Linked DNA regions of Homo sapiens. The protein of the gene in region 3 interacts with the protein of the main gene of each other region in a biochemical or structural test. Each region holds a gene or a part of one and is shown on either strand. Other genes may lie near its edges. The genes, in order: ESR1, CSNK1D and PPP5C.

Region 1 (3,196 bases), on a different chromosome or scaffold from region 3:
CTCCCAATTCATCAGTTAAATCTGAGAAAATGGGTAAAGGAAGCACGCAGGTAGCTCCAAAAAGGGAAGGGAGTCCTGAAATGGAAACCTGGGGTGGGGGTGGACCAATTGTTCCTGCTTTACCTTCAGAATGAGGGAGAGGTTTTTAAGCTAATTATATCATTTCAGATCACTCATTCTTCCATTCACTCATTCATTCATAAATAACCACTCTCAAGCATCCTTCTTCTCCCTCACAGGGAAGGATTTGGGCCAGGCATTAAAAAACAGCAACTATGTTTAATGAGCACCTCAGTTAGTCCTCACCACCATCGTGTGAATTAGGTGTTATTACTTATCATCATATTGTTGATAAGGAAGCCGAAACTCTGAAAAATCAACTGCCAATGATCATAAAATTTGTAAGTGGTGAAGCCAAGAATTGAGGCCAGTTCTGCCTGACCACAGTGTCCACACACTTCCTGATACACCTGGGGGTGTTGGGCAGAGGGAGTGAGGTGAGGAGAGGCTTTAGCATTCAGACTCACTGTGTGTGACAGATCGTTTAACCACTTTGATTTTAGAGGATCAGTGGTGAACTGCTAGCAAGAAGTGGAGCTTACAAAAAACAAACTCGTTGTCTTTAGTTTAATTCTTTATTTGAACATCAAATAGGTTGAGAAAATTGTTTACAGGTGCTCGAGCATCCCGCTGGATTCTTTTTCAAAGTGCAAAAGAGGTTTACAAGTGTGTTTCATTAAACAAAGCAAAGCTGCGACAAAACCGAGTCACATCAGTAATAGTATGCATCGGCAAAAGGGCATATTAATCCATCAAACACAATTTGGCATTTGAGCCTTTTCCCATAAAACAAGAGCTCTACACTGAAGAGTATGTAGTGCACAAAAAGCATTGTTTATCACCTGTGAGAGAACAGAAACTGGCATAATGTCACTTATTAATTCAAGTCTCTATAACCAATGACCTCTCTGTGAATGCAAAGGGGTCTGTGTCTCAGGCACCTGCTCATGGGACAATATGTTGTTTCTAGGGTGCACAGCTCTAAACACACACACTGACGATGGGTTTGGAACATGGCAGCATTTACATATTTTAAAAGTTCAGGCACAATTGGATGCAAAAAAAAGAATAGAAATTTTTCTTGAATCTCAAAAGACAGTGCAAAATTGAAGTGCCATAATAGAGGCAGCAATTACTTAGAAAACAATTTTAAATGACTAAAAACGAGGCCACACTTTAATTCAATTGGAAAGGAAATGCAGTTGGAAACAGAGCATAATTAACGCTACTGAAAAGATGGATATTTGGGACCAAAGTTCATTTGCTCCAGTTGAGAGTAAGTTTTCAGGGGATTAACTTGGGAATGGTGCAGTGTAATCTAGATCACGCTCCCAAGACCTGCACCAAAGAGAATTATGGTTGCCTTTTGAGCTACTGTATGACTCTATTTGCCTTTCACATAACTAGCTTCCCCAAGCAGATCTGCCTGTGAATATTAGACATTACTATGGTGTTAGTGATCACTCCCAGTACCCACAGTCCATCTCATAATTGGAAAGTATGAATAGGAAAGTATTTGTAATCAGTGTCATGCAGGGGAAGGAGTACTCTAAGCCAGTGGCCTAAATCAATGGCCATTTCAGTGTATAAGATTTCAAGGTGAGAACACCTTAATGTGATCAAAAGTAAATTATCAGTAAGTCCCTTATTTGTTCAGCCCTCAAAAGGCATGGGCTATGGCTTGGTTAAACATATCTGCAAGGTTACTAGGGAAATCAAATCAAAGACTGCACTTCCTTAGGGGTTAGATTTTGCAACCTACATTGATAGGGTCTTCTCTTTGGATGACCTAGCCTCTCATAATTGCTGCATGATGGCATTATAGAATCATTACGGCAAGCTAGGCAATGGCGAAAAGAAACACAGACCACTAGCTATTCCATGGACTTTACTGCTGATGTTGTTCTTTCTTCTCTAGAACTGAAGCTGCCATTTTAGAAATGGCTGTAAATGGAGCTAGTTGATTTGTGGTCTCCAGGGCAGAAGTGGACTCTACTGAACCCTGGTGCACACCCAGAATTAACCATTTTCCTCCAAATACTTTCAATACTCTTCTTAATATATTTGCCATTCCCCAGATTCCTGAATCCACTTCCCCACCATACCTGAGCCCCCCAGATAAATCACATCTTTTACATTTTAACTTGCCTCAGAGTGGGGGAAAGCAGAGGCAAGAGTTTTTTTTTAAATCATGTTCCTACACCCAATACCAACATCAGCCAGAAAATATCTGCTGTCCATTAGTGGCACTTCAAGTAAAAATACAAAGAGATTTCCAAAGTTGCTGGAGACCCCTGGGCGAACATTTCAATCATCTGATGTTCTCTGCCCACTTCAAATGTAGTAGTATCTTAACATGAATAGAAACACATTGGATGAATAATGTAAAACCTTCCACTGTATAATTGTTTGGCTTTAGCTGGTATTACATCGTCTAGTCCTAGAAATTTTTTTTTGTTTTATTTTAATTTTTTTAAAAGAAAATCTAAGTATAAACATTAAAAAGAACCCACTGACCCATTAGCTACTGTCCAAAAATATTACTACTGATATTTTGGTAAAAGCAAAATTAGCTGCCCTGAATAATTTTCCTTTTCAGGCATAATCTTTGCTACATAAGATTGTCTGTCATTCAGTATCCAACAATAGGCATCTGGATTAGTGCTATTTTGTCTACTGTGGATACAAAAGTTGATATGAAATGTGATCTTCATTTAAATGAATAATCACCAGGCTTTAGGCATAAATGACTGTATACATGACAAGGTAGCTTGAAAAGTATACAAAAAAAAAAAAAAAAACTAAATATTTTTCCTTGGTTTTTGCATGTTAACCCAGTCAAATTAAATCCAGAACAGAATTACTACATTCAATTGTCTGATAAACAAGCAATGTAATTTCAAAAAAATATATATTATACTATATAAGGTGCTTCTTAAACAAACTAAGGTGCTTCTTAAACAAACAGCAACAAAAGAATTATGTTCTTAAACATATCCTTAACACAGATACATAAAATTGTCCCCAAATTTAAGTGCACATAAAAACTTTTTTTTTTTTTTTGCCCTCCCAGATTCTCAGTCCTTTGGTGATCACTTAACTGGACAATCAGAAATGAATGAAATCCACTTTTCCA
Region 2 (3,649 bases), on a different chromosome or scaffold from region 3:
CTCAGGACGGGCCTCTGGATGAGAGTGGTGCCCACTCCTCTTCTGGAATCACTTGCTCTTAAGGCCAACAATGGCATGGGACAGGCCCTCCTGAGTCTTCTCAAGCACTAAGAAAACCTGATCCCAGCAGGATGGCAGGTGCTGGGCAGCCCCACAACTGGGTCTCAGGGCACAGCCTGAAGGCAGGGGAGACGCACATCCTCGCCGGTACGACGACAGGGCTCAGGCCTAGTCCTGGGCAGGAGTTGATCAAAGCGAGTCATCGACTGTTGGAATGACAAGGCCTTCTTCTCACCAAGTAAAAACCCCAAACAGACTCAGCAACTAGATGGCCTTTAGGGCCCAGGCTACTGTAGCCAAAGAGCCCTGGCCGAACACCAACAGCCCGAAAAGAGAGGGGGCGAAGAGGGAACAGACCCAGGCGGAGTCCGGGCTGGGGCGGGGCCCTACAACTATGGGGGCCTCTGTGACCTACAGGCAGGCTGCCACGTGGTCTTCCACCCATCCACACCCAGCCACGGCCAGCAAGCCCTGGGAGACCTTCCTGCTGCCTCCTCCCATCTCCACAGGGCGCAAGGTCTCCTGAGAGGAGCAGAAAGAACAGGGAAGAGCGACGGCCCGAGGAGGAAGACTGGCCGGGGATGAGTCACTGCCCACGGTGACTGTGTCTCCAGCTCACCCGAGCAAACAGGTGAGGCGCTCAGAGCAATTGAGCCTCCTGTATTCCCCCTTGGGATTCAAAACGGGAGCTGCTGCTCACAGCCACCACGTGTGCTGGTGCTGGCAGAGTCTGGCAGGAAGGACACACGGCCAAAGCCTTCCTGTGAGATGGTGACAAAGGAGGGGGCCCGCCCTGGAGGTGGGGAGCCCTCAACATGCCTCTCAGGAAGGCCCCCCAGGGTGTCCAGGAGCAGAGGCCAAGAGGCTTCTTTTGGAGAGAACACACCCCCAAACCAGCTCTCTCTGGAGACTCCTCCCTGCTGTTAGAGCCCACGTTGTATTTCCTCATATGGAAAACGAGGGCCTAAGAGCCAGCTGCGGGTTCCTGCCACAGCTCACCATGGAAGGAGACACTGCTCACGGCCACCTTGGGGGCTGGTGGCTACAACAGCCACACCCAGGTGCCGCCAAGGCCGTGTACCGAGAAAAGGCAGCTGGACTCAGGGCTGTGGCTACTCAGCACGCTCAGGACACCTTCACTGCCCACAAAGATCCCAAACCACTGGACACTTTACTTTCTTTAAAAGAAACAAAAAGCACTCAGGCCCCTTCCCTAGTCTTTGTCAGCCAAGCGCTGGGGCGAGGCTGTCCAAGTCCGGTCAGCACCCAGCATGGGGAGCACTCTGGGCTCCTGTACCATGGTTCAGGGGCTACAGAGCCAGCCGCACATCAAGACACGAGGGCACGGGCAGACCCTCCCGGGAACTGCTCACAGGAACTGATGCGCAAGTGCCAGGCTCGTGGAAAGAAGCCAGTTAAACCCTTTCTGTGCTGTGTCTGGAGGTGACAGCAGGGTTGTGTGCACGTAAGGGACCCATTCTCGTGACGCAGCCCAGACCCCTCGAGCCCAATTCATATAACCACAAAGTCAAAATAACCACGAAGCCAAAATCCCTGCATCTTTGGTCTCTTTGGGAAGAAGTTATACAAAAAGGTCTGTTTCTAGTGAAATTATTAGTGAATTAGAAACGTGCAGTAAAACCCCAATCATTAAAAGACGGCAAGTGGTCAAGAGTGCTCCCCACTCCGGCATGTTCCTGGCTAGCCAGCTACACCCAGCCCCGCTCACGGCAGCAGGCCTGGCTCCATCCTGTGATCCCAACAAACACCTCCCCACAAGCCCAGAGCCAGGCTCCAGGGCATTTCTGAACTGAGTTCCTGCTCATCCGGAAGACCCGTGGGGGATCTGGGCACCCCCCAGGATGCCTGCTGGTGAAACAGCCCTGCCCCACTAACCCTGCCCCTGTTGGCGAACAACCCAGAAAACTATTTGAAGAAATATAATGGATCCATATGGAGAAAGCTGTTCTAGTTCAAAGAGCACGTTAGCAAACGCAAAAGACAACAAAAGCCAGAGCGAGGAGAGGAGAGACCGCTGCAGGATGCTGAAGAGGCGGTGGCCGTGGCTAGGCCTGGGCTGCGCAACAGGGTACTTCTCGTCCAAGGGAAGACAGGTGAGGCCGTCAAAAGAAGGAAAGCCTCGTTGCAGGGCATGCCACCAGGGAGGGTCTCACAAGAAGCCCGTGGAGGTCCCTACGGGCCTCCATCCCTGGCCAGTGGCAAGAATGAGGAAGAATGAGGAAGGCTCCCTCGGGCTGGGGGCACCCACAATGGGGCGCAAGCAGGCGAGCGGTGTCAGCTGCCTGGGGACGGCTGCGGGCAGCGGGGCACTCAAACAGCAGGAGAAAGCCCCCACGGTTTGCTGGCCTCAGGGACCTGAGACCTGAGACTGGCCACCTGCAACCAGGAGACAAGCCCCATGACGGCCCAGCATGTCTCCCAGGCCCTCCCGAGAAGCCTCATCTGCAACCAAGACGCCACACCCTGGCGAGATTAAAAACTCTCAAAAATGGGGGGAAGAAAGGAAAGAAGAAGCCCTGGAGAAACCACAGCCCGCTCTTGACTCGGACGGGGTAGCCCGAGGCCCAGCGCCCGCCCGGGAGCTCTGCACCTACCTGTGAGGTGGACATGCGAGAGGTATCTTGTCGGCCTGTGAGGTCGGACGAGGAGATGTTGACGGGGGCCCCGCGGTGCAGCCGCATACTCACTTTCCGCTCTCTCTCCATGCCGGAGACGGGCCGGGGGGAGGTGTTAGCTGAGGACAGGGAGAGAAACGGAGTGGGCCGCCCCCGTCTGCTGCCTCTCACTCGGGGCTTTCTATGAGAGGCTGTGGCCAGAGAGGACCCTGGGCTGCCTGGACAGTCAGGACCTGGCTGTGGCCGATGGCCACCAACACTCAGATCCGGCCGGAGGGACACAAAGGGACATGGGAGCGAGGTCAAGGGGCTCACAGGGGAGGAACGTGAGATGCGGGAGGAATCACGCACACCAGCAGGTGCCGGCATTTCTAAAGGCGCCTGGGCAGCCTGGCTCATCCACCCTCAGGAGCGAGCATCGCCTGACACAGGGCACTTAGTGTCCACCACCAAGTACCCTGTTGTCCCCACCAACCCCAAGACACAAGAAGTCACCCCAGAGCCAGCCCCAGAGCGCTGGGAGGGGGGCACTCACCCGTGTGTGAGGTAGGGGTGAGGGGTGTGGGGGGAGCCACTTCCTGCGTCCCCCGCAGGCGGCCGGAGGCTGTGGAAGGGAGGCCGCGGGTAGCCGGGTTCCGCGAGTGTCTCAGCCGCTCCTCTCGGTCCCTGCGCTCCCGCTCGGCGTCATCGGCGGCCCGGCTGGCACCCTGAGGAGGCAGGAGGTGAGGCCGGAATGGAACCAGCTTTGGCAGAAAGCAACCCTAGGTCCTAGGCTGCCCCGGCCACGTGAGAAAATACCTACCAAAGGGCACTGGGACGAGACTGCCTGCAAAGCCCCCCACAGGCTGCACGTTTCTCCTCATGGGATGACAGCATCATCCCCACAAGGGGTCAGAGCCAGGCCTCTCAGCTCCCCCAACAATCGAAAAAACCCCACTCGCCATGGCATCTCC
Region 3 (3,649 bases):
CCTGAGCCCAGAGACATCTCTTCAGCCTGCCCCTCCTGCCTGTCCCAACCAACCTAGCTCAGGGCTTGTCCTCTCGGCCACAGTCTCCAGGACTCCACACACCCGCCCACCCACCCCTCCAGCCCCAAGCTGGGCACTAGCAGCAGACTGAGGGAAGAGCACTCCGATAGCAAGAAGAGCAGGTGCAGAGGCCCAGAGGTGGTTGAGCCTTGTCTGAGGGCCAGTGAGAGCTGAGGCAGCTGGGTGGAGTGGGCAGGGGGAGGAGAGATGAGGCAGGGAGGCTGGTGGGACAGATCCCTGGGCCCCGGGCAGCCACAGTGAGGTCTGGACACTGATGTTCTAAGTGTGGAGTGACAGGATGTGACATCTGGCCAAGGAGGAGAGGTCGGATTTTATTTGAGATGAGCTATAGCTGTACCCTGCACTTTACCTCGTGACCTGTGGAATCCTCATGTCTCCACGGGAGTAAGGACCATCTGGTGCTCATTTTACAGACAAGCCATGGAGGTCTTGCTCAAGGTCAAATGCCCTGTCTGCACCTGCAGAGCCAGGCTTGATCCCTCCCTCGTGCCCATTTGACAGGCAGGAGAGCCAAGGCTTAAACAGCCTTAGAGGCTTGTCCCCACTGGGGGCCGTGATGTACCAGAGCCATGCAGGGCTTTAGTACACAGGTCCCCCTTCACTGAACTCTCACAAGCCCAGGGAAACTACATTAACCCCCGTCTCCAAATCTGGGGACTGAAGCTCAGGGAAGAAAGGCCGGTGCTCAAGGTCACACAGCAGGTGACAAGTGGGCCTTCTTTTTTTTTTTTTTTTTGAGATGGAGTCTCGCTCTGTCGCCCAGGCTGGAGTGCAGCGGTGCGATCTCCGCTCACTGCAAGCTCCGCCTCCCAGGTTCACACCATTCTCCAGCCTTAGCCCCCCGAGCAGCTGGGACTATAGGCGCCCGCCACTATACCCGGCTAATTTTTTGTATTTTTAGTAGAGACGGGGTTTCACCGTGTTAGCCAGGATGGTCTCGATCTCCTGACCTCGTGATCCTCCTGCCTTGGCCTCCCAAAGTGCTGGGATTACAGGCGTGAGCCACAGCGCCTGGCCGAGAAGTGGGCCTTCTGAGCCAGGCCAAGACCAAAAGGCTCCCACTCTCACGCCCCATGCCATGGTGACCTCTGGGCAGGAGCGTGGCACAGGGGTAAGCACAGAGGCAGGAGTAGGTGGCCTGGGCCCAGTCCCTAGCTCTGCCTCTTACTACCTGGGTATCCCTGGGCTACTGAGGAACCCCCTGTGGACTAGGGTTTCCTAGAGTCCTTCTACCAGCAGCCCTGCACAGAGTCCCCACCCTCACTCCCATTTTAATGTTCTCAACAGCACTCCGAGAGTCCTTCTTACACACAGCCCTGCCCTCCCAGGGCTTACCATCCAGTGGAGGAGACAGATCCATCCCTAGACAGTGGTGCCCAGTGTTTAGGGTTGGGGCAGCTCGGAGGGGACACTGGGGCTGAGACCTGGAGGATGGGAGTCAGTTGGTTGAAGAGATGGAAGAAGAGAGTCCCAGGCTCCATGAGTGGCTCCAGAGGGAAAGGAAGGAGGGATGCAGAGAGAGATGAGGACTGACATTACAGAAGGGAGAAGCCGGGTCCTGGGGATGTGGCCAGCAACAATCTAACAACATTCCTCTTTGCCACGCCAACTCCTGGCAATCTTTCAAATGCTCACATGTCCCCTCCTCCGGGAAGCCCTCCTTTACTCCCAGGCTGGGTCAGGCCCCCGACTGGGCTGCCCCAGCCCCTGGGATCTCCTGTGCCAGCCCTGTCCACTCTCATCGTCACTGTTGAGTAATGAGTGTGTCCCTCCAGAGCTGTAAGCCCCAGGAGGGCAGGGCCCGGGACTTCCCAAAAACAAACAAGGGCAGAACTGGGCAGCCCAGATCTGACCGACCCTCCCTGGAATGCCAGCGCCTTTGAGGACTCCTTCAGGCCTCCTGGCTGTGGTCCAGAGGCTGCCTGGCCCGCGCTCCTGATGGGGCAGCTGTTACTCCAGTGGCACAGGGAGGGGATCCTGGAGTCTCAGGGCCTGCCACCCGGCTCTGCAGATCTCTAACTCGAGGCTGCAGGCAAATAGCCTCCTCTTTCTGAGCTCTGCCTCACTGGGTGGCCGTGAGGATTTTACGAACTTGTGTAAGAAAACTGGCTGCAGCAAAAGAAGCAGGCAAAAGAAGTGAATGCGTGAATGACTAAATGAAGGGAGGAAGTGAAGGGAACAAGAGGAAATGGGAGGAGCCTGTACTCCACGGGTCGACCCACATGCCATATCCTGGCCCTGTTCTATGCGCTTTACAAACAGGACCATATTTAAGCCTCAAGACATTCCCCATTTTAGATGCAAGGAAACAGAGGCCCAGAGAAGTTAAGTCATTTGCCCAGGCGTCATCAAGCAGGTAAAGGAAGACATAGGGTTTGAACCCAGGCAGCCTGAGCTCTCAACCATGGCCTGCTTCCTCCCCACAAGCTCTTATACCTGGAGCCTCCTTAGGGGTTAAGCATAAGCCCCCACCCCCCATTTTACAGAAGCGGGGCACTGAGGCCCACAGAGAGGGGAAGACAGTTGAGACACTTCCCTTAGACTCAGACATGAGACGGGGGACGAGGCTCTGCCCCCAGGATTTCTGGAATAGGCCTGAACTTACAGAGCAACCAGCCACAGTTGAGGGGACAGTCCTCTGAGCCCTGGGACCTCTCTTCTCCCTGCTGGGGCCCCTCTTCTCCTCAACAGGGCCAGTACAGCTCTGGGAGGAACCTGAACGTGGGAGCCAAGCACGTGGCGAGGAAGGGGATATCCGGGCCCTGCTGCTCACACACTCTGACCTTGGGCGAGTGGTTTTTTCACTTCTCCGAGCCTTGCTTCCTTTATAAAACAAACAGGGCCACTCCTAGCCATCTCCCAGCCCCCGGGGAGGATTAAACCCCACAGCGTACCTGGCCACAAGGCTCAATTAAGGTGAGCTGTCATTATTCTTTTTTATTGTTATTCCCACAGCCCTGGAGCCTGGGGCTCTGTGCCTGCTACTGCCTGACAGACAGCAAGGGGCCTGGGCCAGCAGGGCCGTTCTCCTCCGTGCCAGCTCAGTGCCAGGCCCCTCTGGCTGCCTGCCCAGCCCCAGGACTCCTGAGAGCCTGGATCCCAGGTCCTGGGGGGCAACAGGCTCCTCCCAATGGCTGCTGTGGCCCAGAATTCTGATGCGGCCTCAGCAGCAACCCCCATGCAGGCTGCTCCCATCCCAGGGAATTCCACCTTCCACCCCATCACCTGGCTGAGACAGCCTCATCCTGGACTCCTCTCCATCCCTCAGCCCCCAAAGCCCGGTAGTCACTTCACTTATTCTGCCAAGTCAGCCTCCTGAACATCTCTCAGATTCAGCCACTCCCTTCTCACCCTCCAGCCCCACCCAGCCCTGGTCTGGCCTCTCCTGCCCAGGTTCCTGGCTCAGCCTCCACCTGGCCTCGCAGCCTCTTGTCCTGCCCCTCCAGAGGGGTGTTCCTAAAACACAAACCTGACCCTGTCCTTTCCCTACTCAGAACCTCCCAGGGCTCCCCAGAGCCCCACCCCCCACCGCCACCCCACCCCAGAAAGCCCTGGCTCCTTCCTACAG

Evidence for each region.
Region 1: the proteins of PPP5C (region 3) and ESR1 form a complex in vitro, tested with the Homo sapiens proteins (one study listed by BioGRID).
Region 2: of the proteins of PPP5C (region 3) and CSNK1D, one has a biochemical effect on the other in vitro, tested with the Homo sapiens proteins (one study listed by BioGRID).

The regions. Positions count from the first base shown.
Region 1 is NC_000006.12:152,100,700-152,103,895, reverse strand, and holds the end of ESR1 (estrogen receptor), read right to left. Parts: 3' UTR 622-3,196; downstream 1-621.
Region 2 is NC_000017.11:82,246,200-82,249,848, forward strand, and holds part of CSNK1D (casein kinase I isoform delta), read right to left. Parts: exon of another isoform or gene 3,499-3,649; intron 3,404-3,498; coding exon 3,232-3,403; intron 2,816-3,231; coding exon 2,676-2,815; coding exon of another isoform or gene 2,520-2,675; exon of another isoform or gene 273-2,519; intron 267-272; coding exon of another isoform or gene 165-266; exon of another isoform or gene 1-164. UniProt on the Homo sapiens protein: Essential serine/threonine-protein kinase that regulates diverse cellular growth and survival processes including Wnt signaling, DNA repair and circadian rhythms. It can phosphorylate a large number of proteins.
Region 3 is NC_000019.10:46,349,988-46,353,636, reverse strand, and holds part of PPP5C (serine/threonine-protein phosphatase 5), read right to left. Parts: intron 1-3,649. UniProt on the Homo sapiens protein: Serine/threonine-protein phosphatase that dephosphorylates a myriad of proteins involved in different signaling pathways including the kinases CSNK1E, ASK1/MAP3K5, PRKDC and RAF1, the nuclear receptors NR3C1, PPARG, ESR1 and ESR2, SMAD proteins and TAU/MAPT.